2 separate regions of the Homo sapiens genome follow, and region 2 is linked to region 1. The links come from fine-mapping of genetic effects on gene expression. A gene starts in region 1. The other region holds a variant in brackets. All regions are shown on one strand. Distances are between the middles of the regions. Region 1 holds the start of ARID2 (AT-rich interaction domain 2). Region 2 overlaps ARID2 (AT-rich interaction domain 2).

What was found.
Region 2: its variant is fine-mapped to the expression of ARID2 in whole blood (INTERVAL, PIP 0.96).

Annotation. Positions count from the first base shown.
Region 1 is chr12:45,724,698-45,733,033 of GRCh38, reverse strand. It overlaps ARID2 (AT-rich interaction domain 2), which reads right to left and starts at 3,328. Exons shown (of 21, transcript NM_152641.4): 1 at 3,106-3,328; 2 at 2,897-2,990; 3 at 1,720-1,817. The coding sequence starts at 3,197. LINC00938 (long intergenic non-protein coding RNA 938) reads left to right here and starts at 5,113. Exons shown (of 1, transcript NR_028408.1): 1 at 5,113-7,314. RefSeq lists silencers at 2,878-3,117, 3,628-4,047 and enhancers at 4,560-5,522, 5,098-5,817, 5,523-6,485.
Region 2 is chr12:45,746,500-45,754,835 of GRCh38, reverse strand. The region is part of intron 3 of ARID2 (AT-rich interaction domain 2); the gene reads right to left. Among named protein-coding and RNA genes, the nearest start is that of ARID2, 21 kb to the right of the region's middle. The variant T/C (reference allele first, on the strand shown) is at 3,407.

The DNA of each region.
Region 1 (8,336 bases):
GATCTGAAGACCATGTAAATACTTACAATGTTGAAACTATATAGTTAAAAACAGTACCTATAATTAATGATATCCTCCCAAGATAAAAATGACAACTGGAAAAACAATATTTATAATTAACTTTTGTTAAAAAAAATTGGAAGCCTAGATATTAATTTGATTATGCTAAAACTATTAGTATGAATGTAAACTCTTCAGAAAAATATACATCTCATGAATCATGTATATTCTATAGTACTTTCTGGTTATAAAACTTAAGTCAATCAATCTAACAAATATGAAGCAAAACTTCAAAAATATGTATTTCAAACAGTCCAAAATTCAAATGCTTTAAACTGATAAAAACATAAAACCAGAATATGTATTAACATGTTCCTCTCAATATCATAAATAGAAATGAGCAAATGAATGTCACGATGAATATAAAACTCTCTTGTTTCTCACCCCACTACTAACTCAACGGTTTTGGAGGTTAATTTTGCTTTTTGATTTAGCCCTTTAATTTAAAATGTACTCTGACACAAATGCCATCACACACACACAATAGATGACAACCATATTTAATATTTTCTAGACTTCCTGTGTAACTCAATAACTACTCCACAAAGTTCTGCGAACTCCAGCTTCAAGCCTGAAGTCAATCTAAGATAGCCAATAGAAAGTACACCTGTGCGATTACTGCATTTCCTATTTCAGAATGCTGAACGTAATACACAATAACTGAGTGCATCTGAAGCAATAATAAATGCAAAACTCAAATTATGCAGAAGCCACCTTACAAAAAAAGGCCTGTACTATCACTATTAAAAAGCAATAAATACAAAGAATATCATTTTAGTTTTTAATAACACCAACTAACTTAGGATCCTCTAAGATAAGCACTTTAAAAATAAAACACAGCATCATGATAAATTACAGTATGAAAGTATTCCTAGAAGAAAAACTAGAGGCAAAAAAAAAAACGCTAAATCACAAAATATATCATCTAGACTGTATCACATACCAACTGAATAAGAAATTAAACTTTGCCGAATAAGCAGTCAAAGAAGAAGAGGGAGAATGAAAGAAAATCCAGATTATAGTATCCCATTTCATAGTATCCCCATTTTCCTAAAGATATAATAATTTAAATTATCTAATTTAAATTACTAATTTAAGTCACTGGAAATTCAACAAAAAGTAATTATCAAAACAATCCTGGTCACCTAAGCCACCAACATGTTATGCCATGTAGGAATATTCTACTGAAAAACCTATTCAATGACACTGTTCCAAACAAGAAGTTTCATTAAAAAAAAAAAATTCTTAAAGCCAGAATTTTTAAAACTAAAGGAGTTTCCAAAACAAAGAAAAAAATTTTCCCAAAGGTTACAAAGTTTCATTAACTATCTTAAGTCTTTTACTAAGCATCACCTTTCTGCCCCTCAGTGGGTATCAAGCGATGAATAACAATGTCACAAAAGAATGTTTACCAAGATTGGGGCTGGGGTGTCACCTGTAATGATTTTGTATGAAAAATGTAAACGATCCTGAAATTGGTGAGGAAGACTTTCACCTTCCTACAATCTCACTTTATTTATATTAAATGTGTCTCAGTCTGAAATGAACAAGAGCTTAAGAACTGTTTGGTGTGCAAGGTTTGCTTTTGTTTTTGCTAAAAACAAATCTCTCCATAAGTCCCTTATTTCCAAATACTATGGAAAAGTCACTACTACTCACCGCAAGTAATACTGTTTTAAAGCAAAGGCAGCGTTAGAACAACTTCTGGGAAAGTTGAACTCTTCAACAATTTCTCCCCACTGATTCTTCTCAGAAACCTGGTAAAACACAGGCACAGTTGTCTGAACGTGAACAATCTAAGAAAATCTTAACCTAACTATGAAATAAATACCCATTCTACAGAGATCTGTAGATACCTAAGGCATCAGTGGGTGTTTCGGATCGATCGGTAAGAGTTACTAAGCAAGGGCTTCTTGAATCACTGTGTTTTCACCAGAGAGCCCTGTATTTAATACCACTTGTTTTGTTTGGGGGTGGGGGGGTTTGGTGGGTTTGTTTTGTTTTTGAAGCCCGGACAATAACCAATCGCAAGTCCCTCTGTCGCCCCCTTTTAAATCTCAACGCGGTCCGTTTACACTAAAAAAAAAAAAAAAAAAAAAAGTTCAAAAGGATCAATACAGTTCCGGACAGCGACGTCCGCGGGTTGGGGGGGGGGCCGGGGCTGGGGCCGATTCCGATCCCTCTCCCAGATCTATCCATCTCCATAGGCCCTTCTTTGAGGCCTACAGCTTCTGCCTAGCCTTGAAGCCTAAGATGGCTATTTGGAGACAGGTCCTGGTTTCTTTTGTTAGCTGTATAAACCGAGGGCGACGGGGCCGAGGCTGTGCCCCCGGCTGCCGGGATTATTTCGCAGCCGATTATCGATGTTAAACCTGCCCGCGCTAATTTTGAGTTGCACGAAAACTGCTCTCAGAGTCTGTGTGTCTCTGTGTGTCTCCGCCTGTGCTAGAGCGGCAGCGGCGGCAGAGCTGACTCGCGAGCGAGCGGGCGGGCGGCGCGGGAGCGGGGCGGGCGCGGGGCTCAGGCTGGCGCCCCGCACGCCCGCATTCCCCGCCGCGGCGCTCAGACCCCGCCGGCCCGACCGGGCACCGGGCAGGGCGCGAGCCGGCGCCGGGCCGCCCGCCCGCCGGAGCCCCGCGCCCGCCGCGCGCACGCGAGCCACCAGGCCAAAAACAGCCCCGCCGCCGTCCGCCTCCGTGCCACCGGCTGGGAGCGAAAAGAACGCCTTTTGCCCCCGCGGGCCACCCCCCCAGCCCCAAGCGCCCACTCCGGGGTCAAAGGAGACTTTTTGGAGGAGGCCAGCGAGAGGGAAATACAAATTAAAACTTCCACTCACCTTCGCGAATCCGCCTAAAGTAGTGACTCTGGTGTAGAGACCGTGAAGATCCAGCTCCTTCCCACCCACCGCAGGGATTTTTTTAAAAGGCGACCTGCGGGAGAGAAAAAGCCCCGCACTTGTCAGCCGGGACCCCGTGCCCGGCCCGGGCGGGAGAGCCCCGTTCGCCCCGGCTCGCCCCGGCGCTGCCCCCCCGGTTCTGCTCTCACCCTCTGCTGTGGTGGAACTGCCGCAGCTCGTCCAGGAAAGCGAGTCCCTTTCTCCGCTCGTCCGGAGGCGCCTTCCCCGTCGAGTTTGCCATTATTTTTTCAAAGGAGGTTTTTAAAAAACCCAGATCGGTGTTTTAAAAGCGCCCCCCGCTCCCAGCGCTTCCTACCAGAGCCCGGAGCCCATTCCTCGGCCGGCGGCGGCGGGGCTCAGTCATGGGCCGGCGGTGGCGGCGGCGGCGGCGGCGGCGGCGGCGGCGGCGGCGCAGGGAGGGAGGGAGGGAGGGGGAGGAGGAGGAGGAGGGGAAGGAGGGAGCAGGAGGCCAGGGGGAGAGGAGGGAAGGAGGGAGGGGAATTTCTAAAAAAGTTTAAAGAAATCGGAGCGAAACTAGAAGGGCAGGCGACTGCCGGATCCGCGCGAAGCCGCGGGGCGAGCGCGGCCCCCACCCCTTCCTTCCCTCCCTCCCCGTGGCCCGGCTCTCGCCCGCCTCTCAGCGCCGCCGGCTGAGGCAGCTCAGCCCGGGGACGCGATTCAACATGGTGCTGCTGCCGGGGGCGCGCGAGCGGGCGACGGGCAAGGCGAGCCGATGGTGAGGGGTCTGGGCGGCCAGAGGCCCAAGAGTTTCGGCGGCGGCGGCGGCGGGGCTAGGGCAGGCGGGGCTGGGGGTGGGGAGGGGGAGGTCTGTGTGGTGGTTTGTGGAAAGCGCGGTGACAGCGTGTATTTCGGCCCCGGCTCCGCGGGGCCCTCGCACACATTCACGCGCGGCCTCGGCCGCTGAGGCCGGGGCGTCCCCGGGCAGAAGCACCGGCGGCAGCTGAGCCGCTGCGCGCCGCCCGCCTGCTTCCCTCCCCGCCAGCCTCCCTCTCTGCCGCCGCCACGGCCTGGCAGCCAGTGCCACACAGCGACCCCCGAGGGCTGGCCGCGGCACTGCGCCTGGCTCCACACCGCCCCGGCAGATCCTCGCGGGGAACAATAGACTCGACTCGCCGGGCTTAGGGTTCGTCTGCAATGTGCCGCACATTTCACACGCACACAAAGCCGGCGGAAAGGGGGGCGGTGCGGGGAAACGGCCACTACCGGTTGTTCCAGGGTTAGGGGTGGAGGCGATGTTCGCGTCCCCGGCCCGGCTGTTGGAAGGGCCGCCTCGGAGTCCCCGCCCGCCCGACAGAACCGGTGTGGCGCTCTGAAGGGAAAGGAAGCTCACCGGGGTAGCCCCTCACGCTACGCAACATTCACAGATCGGAATAAAGTCAATTTGTTACCTTCTGTTTTTGTAAAATCTAAAGGAATCGGCTTTTATGAGCCGTATGCTAGTATTTTGGGGCCTGGTTAGCACATTTTCTATGAATTATCCACACGCTAACTTTAGCAAACTATACGTTAAATACAATGTGAACTGTCTGTCCTAGTTCTGTGGAAATAGAGTAATGCTCTTAATTCATCTTGCCGCTGGTTGGCTTCACATATCAAACTGGAGTATTCTATGAGCAAAGTTATGCAAACTAACTAAACTGGTTGGGAAGCAATCTATCGAACTTCGACAATAATAATTAAGGTTTACATTTTTATAGTAAGGTCTCTTCAAGATTGCTGCGTTTAAAATAAATACCGAATAAAACGTTTTTCCTTGCTTTCAAATGTCTTAAATGTAATCCTCGTTTAAAATATTTTGAAGGTTAAAAAAACCCTTTGCTTAAATGAGTCAAAACATCTCAACAAATACTACCACCTAAATTTGCATTTACGAGGGGTGTTGGAGCCGGCTCTTTGCTACAAATGTTAATTAAGATTACAGTACGTGAAACGTATTATTATTCCCATTTTAGTGACGGCCACCACGGGCAAAGTCACTGCCTAACCCAAGGTCACAGGGTAGTAGGGGTCTGGATGGGTTATTTCAGGTAGTCGTTCCAATGGGAACATTGCTTTGGAGGTGAAAAATTATGTAATATAGTGCAGCTTGCTTCCGGTGCTCACTCTAGGAAACGGACTTATTTCCCAACTAAAGTTTGTCTCTTAAGTGGGGTCGGAATAAGGTTGTGGCTAGGAAGATCCTGACAACCCAGGGCCAGTGAGTGTCTCGGAAGCCTGTGAGGGGCGGAGACCCGGCCCGGGGAGGTGGAGAAGCTCGCCGGCCGCGGAAGACTAGGGGTGAGGCTGCTGCGAGGAAGACCCGGTCAGCTGTCCCTTCCCCCATCGGTCCTCTTAGGGGAAGTGGAGATGTGGGCCTCGGAGCTGCGTGGCCCGGGCTGTGCGGATTCCCTAAACGCCGCACTTGCGCACAGCCCCTTACGTAACCGTCAGTGCCGGGGATTCCCTGGAGGGGGTCATTCTATTCAACCATTATACACACCCCGGGCTCCTGCCGCCGCGCCGCCGCCGCCTCACAAAATGGCGGCGCCCATAGAGGAGACCGCGGCCGCCTCCCCGGCCCCATTTTGTGGGAGGCGAGAGATCTGTCAACATGGAAAACCTCTGCTGAGGATGCATCCGAGTTTGGAAACCCCACTTAAGGGATGGAGCCTGGGGGATCACATTAAACGGAAAATGCCAACGACTTCTACCACCTCTACGCGTTTTTAGTTTTTCATTTTCTCGAAGGAAGCGCCAGAAGCCTGTGGAGTAATTGTAACTAGAGGGAGAACGGAAAGCTGAGGTGACTGCTCCGGGGACTTGGCGCGGCGCCTTGGTGGCTTTGGTTGCTCTTCCACGCTCCCGGCAGCTGACCAGAATCTCTTGGAGGGTCTCCTGGGCCACCTCGGCCGCGCCAGTCGTGCAGTGAGACTTCTGTAGTTTTAAAATGCCACAGTCCACGGCCCGGTCGGCACCGCTCGCCTGAATCGTGGGCTTTGGGAACCTTGGAGGCTGCTGCTCCAGGAACTCGCGGTCGGCCGGGAGCCGGGGAGCTTCGTTGCTGGGAGCGGGCGGTATTCGCGGACTCCGGCGGCCCTGGCGGGTCGCGGCCGGGATCCGAGCCGGGGATGACGATGCTGATGGAGCTGATGGGGCAAGAGTGGGAACGGAGGCACGTACACTGAAATTTAAGTCATCCAAGTTGGGACTTAAGATAGCAGGTTAATATTGTCTCAGGCGAGACTTAGAACGTCTTTTCTGGTATCCCAGTCTGCAGTGGGCAAATCTATTGTCTTTATTTCTCATTTAAGGGCAGAATGGAGGGATGACATATTTTTACTTTTCAAGAGGCGGTTGCCACTTTTAAGTCACTGTTGTGTGTGTGTGTGTACATACACAAACATACGATAGTGTGTTTTCAGAGCAAGTATCAAAGGCTAAAGACTTGGAGTGATACTAGTGTTTAAAAGCCTTTTTAAAAAAATTAAGATGTGATGAGAAACTGGAGAATTGACTTTTAAAAATTTCTTTTCTGTAGAAGAGGCTATCTTCAAAATGGAGTCCTAAAGTATATCTGATGGATAGAATTTAAATTCTTAACACTGTATATACCCTGTGGTCAAAAGCATCAACGTAAAACTTGATGTTTATCAGATTACTTATGTTTCAATTTTCCTGTGGTTAGAAAAATTAAGACAGAAGTAAGCTATTAACGGTATTTGCTTGTAAGAGTAACGTTAAAGGTTTAAGGAAAGGTTTGTTGAAATCGATATGCATCACACGAATCATTTATTTTCAATGTTGTTTTCCAGTTGCAGCAATCATTTGTGTTTACATGACTTTGAAAAAGGGTTTAGTTTATGTTGATTTTGACCCTCTTATTTAATCTCTAGTGCAGAAGTGCAGCTTTCTGCAGGCTGCGCCTCAATCGCTAAGTTCCACTCTCCATCCTCTGCCGCGCTACTCCTGGCATGTGGATCACCAAGATACAATTTCTGGTCCTGTCTGTTCTTATTGATGTCCTTTACAGTTAATAAATTTGATTGCCACTAATCAGTCTGTATCTCTTGCAAAAACACCACATTTAGCATCCAAGTAGAGTCAGAGTATGTTTTTTATGAGATTGTACTAAAGTAACCTTCTATTACATTTCTTATTACCATATTGCATTTCCTATAGTGGGCAGCATAGAGCAGGTGGATCCTGACAAAGTAATGTTAGAGATGTGCTGACAGCTTTACAATAGATATTCTCCAACTAATTTGACAAGATATAAAATAAAATGTAGTTCGTAGTTTTCAAGCATTAATGGAAAGTGTTCCTATTAAAAAATTACCAATAACAGTGGAAATTGTTGCAATCCAATTTGTATAGTTTACTGTTTTGATGACAAAGCGCTTATGATGGGAAAAATGTAGTGTTGCTTTTGTAACTGCAAACGCTGCACGCCGTAATTAGAGGTTTATGTTATTTTATTTGAATTTTTCATTCTTACCATCAGTTTTCATATTAGTCAGGAAATTGTGATAAATTAAAAATTCCCTCATTCAACTAAACCTTAAAAAACTGTACCCAGTTTCAAATCAAGCATTATCAGGTGTATGATTACAACAGCTGAAATAAATTGAGGAATTGGTATGCCAACTCAGTGGAGAAATTTTGGGATTTTAGGTCACTCTAAGATTTAAAAAAATAGTTTGATTCGTTAAACAAGGCTATTGAAGTTAAATTGATATTTCCTTAAAGATGATTTTAGAGAAAAATTCCTTGGCGAGCTTCGAGAATGCGTTCATGGCTTCTGTTGCCTGTACCTACTGCTATACTTTTTTATGTGGACTAATTTGTCTTATTTGAAAATTTGATTACAATATCAAATCCTAGATGAAGCCCTTCCATTCTTAGGGTGATTCTAAGGAGTACTGATAACTAAGCTCTTAAAAGGCGAGGAAATAGTTTATTCTACTGCAGATTAGGGTAATCTTAATACAGACACTCTGATGGTAATTCTAAGCAGTGTTGATAACTAAGCTTTTAAAAGATAAGGAAATAGTTTATTCTACTTCAGAGTAGGGTAATTTTAATGCCCTGAATATACTCTGAATCTTTTATAGATAGATTTCTGGATGATTTGGCCCAAAAAATCTGATAAGCTTTGGGGAATTTTTTAATTTTTTTTTCTCTTAAAGAGAAATCAGAAATGTGGGATTTTTTTAAAAATTTATTTTCAGTAGATATTGGAGATTATGCTTTGTACATTAAATCCAGTTTGATTTTTAAGTGATAATTTTCAATTAAAGACTTTTTAATAAGACAACTAAAAAATTAAATTTTAGTCAATTACAATAATATTTTTTGGAGAAGCATTCCCAGATGTGCTTTT
Region 2 (8,336 bases), 22 kb before region 1:
GGTAACTCCTATGCACTAATTAGTATTGTGTTATGATGTTAGGGCTACTAAAATACACAATACTAAGTCCCTACCTCCTCAGGCTCACAGTTCACAGAAGAAACAGACAATAAAAAAGTTGTTATAGTAGTGTTTGTAATAGAGATATAAATGAGGAGGAAAGTGGGATTATAAAGAAGGATCTACTTCAAGCTGCTTGATGAGATAAGAAAAGGCTTTTTAGAAAAGGTGACATTTGTGTTCAATTTCAAAGATAGGTAGGAGTATGTCAGGCAATGAAAAAAGGAAAGGAATTCCAGACAGGGAAAATGGCACATGCAAAGGCAGAAAGGTGAGAAAAACTTGGCATGCTTGGAGAACTATAAATGGATCAGCATGGCTGGATCTAATTCTACTAACTAATTCTACCAACGTGTACTGACTGTTCATTAACCAAGCTTTAAAACAGAAAAAAAGACATAGTATCTGTCTTCAAAAGATGTGCAAGGGTATGGCAAGGAGATTAAGAATGGAAAAGTAATGAAGGGCCTTTTACGACCTACTAATATATTTGGACTTTCTTCTTTAGCAATAGAGAGCCACTGAAGAAATGTAAGCACTTACCTGCATCACTCAGCCCTCTTTTTTTATTATTTTTTTGCCTGATACTATTACTTATGCATTCAAGTGAATGAAATGCTTCTATAAGATTCAACAGTTTGTTTTTTGAAACAACTAAACCAGAATGTATTCATTCCAATGAACATTATTTTCCAAGTAATCACCTTGTTGAAATCATAAATGTATTTCAATGATACTATTAGTTAAAAATAACTTTTTAGTAGTTGCTTTAGAAATGACATCAGATATAGCCAGAAGCATCACAAATCTTAGTACTTCATCATGTTGAAAATGGCAAAAGTCACTAAGAGCTAAATTTGGCAAATAAGGTGGGTAAGCAAGTTGTTGTTATGGGGGCTCATGCCTATAATTCCAGCACTTTGGAAGGCCAAGGAGGGCAGATCGCTTGAGTCCAGGAGTTCGAGACCAGCCTGAGCAACACAGGGAGACCTCGTCTCTACAAAAAATACAAAAATTAGCCAGGCATGGTGGCACGTGCCTGTAGTCCCAGCTATTCGGGAGGCTGAGGTGGGAGGATCGCTTGACCAAAGGTTGCAGTGAGACGCAATCGCACTATTGCACTCCAGCCTGGGCGACAGAGCGAGACCTTGTCTCAAAAAAAGAAAAAAGAAACCTGGATTATGTTTTAGATCAATTACAGGATCAGCAGAAAATAATAAAAATTTGCATTTATAGATTAAACTATATACCAGACACTACATATACTAATGTATTTACCACTCAAAACAACTCTATAAGGTACACACTTTATTATCTACTTTTTACAGGTGAAACTGTGCAGAGTAACTTGCCCAAGGTCACAAAACTGACTGAATGGAGAAGGTGAAATCTGAACCCAGATAGTGTGCCTCCAGAGCCAACTCCTAAATCACTACGCTACAGACCATCATGAGGGGGGAAACACTTTTTTTTTTTTTTGAGATGGAGTTTCGCTCTTGTTGCCCAGGCTGGAGTGCACTGGCACAATCTTAGCTCACTGCAACCTCTGCCTCTGGGTTCAAGTGATTCTCCTGCAACCTCTGCCTCTGGGTTCAAATGATTCTCCTGCCTCAGCCTCCCGAGTAGCTGGGGTTACAGGCATGCGCCACCACACCCAGCTAATTTTGTATTTTTAGTAGAGACAGGGTTTCTCCATGTTGGTCAGGCTGGTTGTCTTGAACTCCCGACCTCAGGTGATCCGCCCGCCTCAGCCTCCCAAAGTGCTGGGATTACAGGCATGAGCCACCACGCCCAGCTGGAAAAAAACTTTTAATGAACAAATTTAATAAAACTTTATAGCATGACTCAAACTGACTCTTAAGAGTAAACTACATGATGTCTTTACAGAACAACAGTATCCCCGATGACTTCCTCTCAAGATAACTGTAGTGGTTGTTTTAGCTTAATTTCTGTTATGTTTGCTTAAGAAAAATCAGCCTTGGCCTGGTACAGTGGCTCACGCCTGTAATGCCAGCATTTTGGAAAGCCAAGGCAGGAGGACTGCTTACTGGCCTGGGCAACATAGCGAGATCCTGCCTCTACAAAAAATCAGCTGGGTGTGGTGGTATGAGTCTGAGTCCTAGCTACTCAGGAGAGTGAGGCAGAAGGACTGCTTGAGCTCAGGAATTCAAGGCTACGGTGAGCTATGATTATACCATTACACTCCAGCCTGGGCAACAGAGCCAGACCCTGTCTCTTAAAAAAACAAAACAGAAAACTCAGCCTTATTATTTTACAAGTGTACCTACTGAGTGTTTCCTCCCTAACTAAACATAAATCATTGAATCCCATATAGTATTTGGCACAATTAATTCAAACAAAACAAGCAGCACTAGCACTTATCATGAACCAGACACCGTGCTCTCTACCTAAGATAGAGAAATAAAGAACACAGTTCCTGTTTTTAAGGAGCTAAGATTTTAGTAGGGGAGACAGAGAGCTAGCTTATGGTAGACAGCATTTATTAAGGTTCAATCCTATGCCAAAAGACTAGAAAAAAATACGCCAAGATGTTTGTTCATGGCGTTCAATAATTTTATCTGCATATGCTAGGATATTACACTGCTTGATATTTTCCCTCCATGGATCTTCTAAATTGTGTACTATTAACACATATTATAGACTTTGATAACAGAAGAAAATTAGGTTTAAAATTGAAAAAGTATAAAACTTGGCACCTAATGGGTTATATCTGAGGTCTCTGCTAATTAAAGTCCTCAAAGTTTTATATTTGAAACTTTAGAAATATATCTAAAATATGAATACTTTTTACCATCTCAAGAGCTATGAACCTTGGTCGTACAAACTATCATTTTTCAACTGGATTACAGTCATGCACTGCAAAATGACATTTAGGTCAATGACCATATATACAATGGTGCTCCCATAAGATTATAATATCATATTTTTACTGTACCTTTTATATGTTTAGCTATGTTTAGATACACAAATACTTACCATGGGGTTACAATTGCCTACAGTATTCAGTATGTAGCATGCTGTACAGGTTTGTAGCCTAAAGCAACAGGCCATACCATATAGCTTAGGTGTGTAGTAGGCTCTACCAGCTAGGTTTGTGTAAGTACACTCTACGTTGTTCAAACAATGAAGAAATCACCTTACAACCCATTTCTTAGAATGTATCCCAGTCATAAAGCAAGAACTAACTGTATTTTCTCAGCCTTCTATCAAGACTCTTTGGTTCTACCCTTGAGCATGCAACATCTATACACAACAAAGCATCCAGACAAATCCAGATAACACTTCATTGCTCAAAATCCTCCAATGGCTTCAGTAGATGCAAAGA[T/C]CTTCCAGAGGCCCTACAAGATCTGCTCCCAGATTGTACCTCTCTGATCTATTCATCTCCACTGCTTTCCTCTGGTCTGGTCACTAATGCTAGCCACAATGGGCTCCTAAATGTTCTTTGAACATACCAAGCATACTCTCTTGCTGTTTGTTCATTCTTATCCCAAATATCCACCTGGTTTGCTCCTTTCTCTCCTTTAAGTCTGTATTCAACTCTTGCTAAGACTTTTCCAGTCCAGTTTGTCTAACGATTTAACACCCTACTCAAGCAAAAGCCATCTCCCTTTATTTGCTTTATTTTTCTCCTTGTGCTATTAGCTAGCATACTCTTATTTGTCTCCTTTCCCTCACTCTAAAGGGGAAATAATTTTTCTCTGTTCTCATCATTGATATATGTCCAGTGCATAGAGTCTAGCACAAGATACGTGATCAATTATTATTCATTAAATTAATGAATAAAGAGCAGTATTCTACATAGCTGGTAAAAGTTTGGTCTCTGGAAGCAGAAGACCTGGGTCAAATTCTAGCCCCACCACTTTGTACTTGGGTCACCTTGTACAAATTACTTAACCTTTCTAAATCTTAGTTTCCTCATTATAAAATGATGATGATGGTATTCTTATAGGGTAGTTTGGGGGATTAAAATAAAGCAGGCTGAGCATAGTACCTGGCAAATAATAAGTGTTCAATAAATGTTATCTATTATAATAATAAACATTCCCAACTCCAAAATGTCTCCAACCAAGTAATCACATCATTTGTATTAATCGTATCCATGTTTTCAAAAATAGTAGTTACTTTGCAAAATCCCTGGATCCTCACATATCAGTTTAAAACAAAGTCAATACAGGCATACTTCATTTTATTGTGCCTCATTTTATTGTGCTTTCCAGATATTATCTTTTTTAAAACCAATTGAAGGTTTAACAAGTTGAAGCAAGTCTATCGGCATCATTTTTTAAAACCATGTGCTCACTTCACAGTTCTGTGTCACATTTTGGTAATTCTCCCAATATTTCAAACTTTTTCATTATTATTATTATATCCATTATGGTGATCTCTGATCAGTAATCTTTGATGCTAATATTCTATTTGTTTGGGGGCACCCCAAACTGTACCCACATAAGAAAGCAACTTAATAAATACTGTGTGTGTTCTGACTACTCCACTGACTGGTCATTCTCCCATTTCTCTCCCTTCTCCTTGGGCATCCCTATACCCTGAGACACAACTATATTGAAATTAGGCCACAACGGCCTCTAAGCGTTCAAGTGAAAGGAAGAGTTGCATATCTCTCACTTTAAATCAAAAGCTAGAAATGATTACGCTTAATGAGGAAGGTATTTCAAAAGCCAAGATATGCCAAAAGCTAGACCTCTTGCACTAAACATTTAGCTATGTTGTGAATGTAAAAGGAAAGTTTTGAAGAAAAATAAGTGCTACTCCAGGGAACACACAAATGATAAAGTGAAACACCCTTATGGCTGGTAAGTAGAAAGTCTGAGTGGTCTAGACAGAAGATCAAACCAGCCAGACATTCCTTTAAGCCAAAGCCTAATCCAGAACAAGGTCGTAACTCTCTTCAATTCAAGGAAGACTGAGAGAAGTGAGGAAGCTGCAGAAGGAAAGTCTGAAGCTAGCAAAGGTTGTTGGTTTGTGAGGTTTACAAAAAGACGTTATCTTCATAACATAAAAGTGCAAGGTGAAGCAGCAAGTGGTGACAGTGAATCTACAGCAGGATATCCAGAAGATCTAGCTAAGGTAAATGATAGAACTGGCTACACTAAACAACAGATTTTCAACATAGATGAAAAAGCCTTCTATTGGAAGAAGATGCCATCTGAGACTTTCAGAGCTAGAAAGGAAAAGTCAATGCCTGGCTTCAAAGCTTCAAGGGAAAAGCTGACTCTTTTGTTAGGGGCTAATGCAGCTGGTGACTTTAAGTCAAAGCCAATGCTCAATGACCATTCTGAAAATCCAAGGGTCCTTAAGAATTATGCTAAATCTACTCTGTCTGTACTCTATAAATGAAACAACAAAGCCTGGATGACAGTACATCTGTTAACAGCATGGTTTACTGAATGTTTTGAGCTCAGTGTTGAAACCAGCTGCTCAAAAAAAAAGATCACTTTCAAAATATTACTGCTCACTGACAATGGTCACCCAAGAGGTCTGATGGAGATGTACAAGGAGATGAATGTTGTTTTCATGCTGCTGACACAACATCCATTCTACAGCCCATGGAACAAGGAGTCATTTTGACTTTCTAGTCTATTACTTAAGAAATACATTTTGTACAGTTATAGCTGCCACAGTGATTCCCTGGATGGAAGTGAGCAAAGTAGTCTGAAAACCTTCTGAAAAGGATTCACCATTCTAGATGCCATTGAGAACATCTGTGATTCATAGGAGGTTAAAATATGAACATTAACAGTTTTGAAGACATTGTTTCCAATCCTCGTAGATAACTTTGAGGGCTTCAAGATTACAGTGGAGGAGGTCATTGCAGATGTGCAAATGGCAAAAGAACTAGAATTAGAAGTGGAGCCTGAAGATGTGACTGAACTGCTGCAATCTCATGATAAAACCTGAATTAATGAGGAGTTCCTTCTCAGGGATGAGCAAAGAAAATGGTTTATTGAGATAGAATGTATTCTCGGTGAAGATGCTGTGAACATTGCTGAAATGACAACAAAGGATTTAGAACAGTATATAAATTTAGTTGATAAAGCAGTGGCAGGGTTTGTGAGGACTGACTCAAATTATGTTCTACTGTGGGTAATTTGCTACCAAACAGCATTACATGCTACAGAGAAACCTCTCGTGAAAGAAAGAGTTGATCGATGCAGCAAACTTCATTGTTGTCTTAAGAAATTTCCACATCCACCCCAATCTTCAGTAACCACCACCCTGATCAGTCAGCAGCCATCAATATCAAGGCAAGACCTTTCACCAGTAAAAAGATTATGACTCACTGAAAACTCAGATGATTGTCAGCACTTTTCAGCAATAAAGTATTTTTGTTTTCTTTTTTTTGAGACAAGGTATCATTCTATTGTCCAGGCTAGATGGAGTCCAGTGGCACAATCATGGCTCACTGCAGCCTCAACCTCCCAGGCTCAAGCAATCCTTCCACCTCAGCCTCCCAAGTATCTGGGACCACAGATATGCACCATCATAACCAGCTACTTAAAACATTTTCTTTTGTAGAGACAGGGTCTCACTACGTCTCAAACTCACTAGGCAGCTTGAGACTGCCTAGGTTGTCTCAAACTCCTGGCCTCAAGCAATCCTCCTGCCTCAGCCTCACAAAGTGCTGGGCCTACAGGCGTTGAGCCACCACACCTGGCCGTACATTGTTATTTGAGACATAATGCTACTGAACAATTAATATACTACAGTATAATATAAACATAACTTGTCTGTGCACTGGGAAACCAAAAAATTCACTCTCATTTTACTATCATATATATTAATGTGGTGGTCTGGAATCAAACCCACAGCATCTCTCAGGCATGTCTGTATTACTCTCTCAAATCTTACCCTACACAAGACTCTCTAGTCTCATATTGTAGCTTGTGAAGACAGATAGGGAGACATTAGTGTCTATTTTACTTAAAAACAACTTCAAGTACTGCATAGAATTGCACAAAATGACACATTTACCACAATGTTAATTAATATTCTACAACTACAACTGACTCTTGATGCTTGTTTAATAAAACCACACAAAAAAATGTTAAGCTTTAGGGACAGACGAATGAAATGCTATACTATTAATTCTGTAAGTTAGAAATTTTCAATTCTTTCAGAATTTCCCAAATTAGATTTCCCACTTGCTGAGAGGCCTACCATACCCACCTGAGTTCATAAGAAGCTCCCCAAGTGACAGGAGATCCTAATTCAGTTCAGCTACAATGTATCAGATGCCAAAAAGTGCATTGCCATTAAAAAAAAAAAATCCTTGACCCCAAGACTCTGATAGTAAACTAGGAGCAGTACACTATAACTCACAAAACTAAACTCTAATTCTGCACTAGCAATGGTACTTACAGGCTTTTTCCCTGATCTACAAGAGGATAATACCTATTTCCTAGAGTTGTTGCAAAAATCCACTGAGATAAATATTTGTAAAAATAAACTATAAACTGTACAGCAACACACACGTTATTACAAAAAGATACATTAAAGAATTTTTTAAATAAAAATAAAAAGCCACAATCCCACAACTACCCTAACCATTTTCATATTTTTATTCCCTTGAAGTCCTTATCTTCAAATACTTTTTAATAAAATTATATTCATGTGAATTGGGGGAAGACAGTATAATATGCCTAGATTCCAGGTTTAAATACTAGGTCCAGCCGGGCACGGTGGCTCACGCCTGTAATCCCAACACTTTGGGAGGCTGAGGCGGGCGGATCACAAGGTCAGGAGTTCGAGAACATCCTGGCTAACACGGTGAAACCCCATCTCTACCTAAAATACAAAGAAAAATTAGCTGGGCATGGTGGCGAGCGCCTGTAGTCCCAGCTACTCGGGAGGCTGAGGCAGGAGAATGGCGTGAACCCGGAAGGCGGAGCTTGCAGTGAGCCTCGATCGCGCCACTGCACTCCAGCCTGGGTGACAGAGCGAGACTCCGTCTCAAAAAAAAAATACTAGATCCAGAACTTACTGTGTGAACCTGGGCAAGGTTCTTAAACACCTTTGTCCTGTTTTCTCATCTATAATACCAGGATATTAACAGTATCTATGTCATAGGGAGGTGTGAAGAGAAAATGAGTTACCACTTGGTGCAGTGCCCGGCACATGGCAAATTAAATAAATGTTAGCTAAAAAAATATAAACTTAATAGTCTGCTTTTTAAAAGATTCAACATGGTATCATAAACCAAAAGTATACTATTAAAGTTTCATAAGAAAAATACTTAA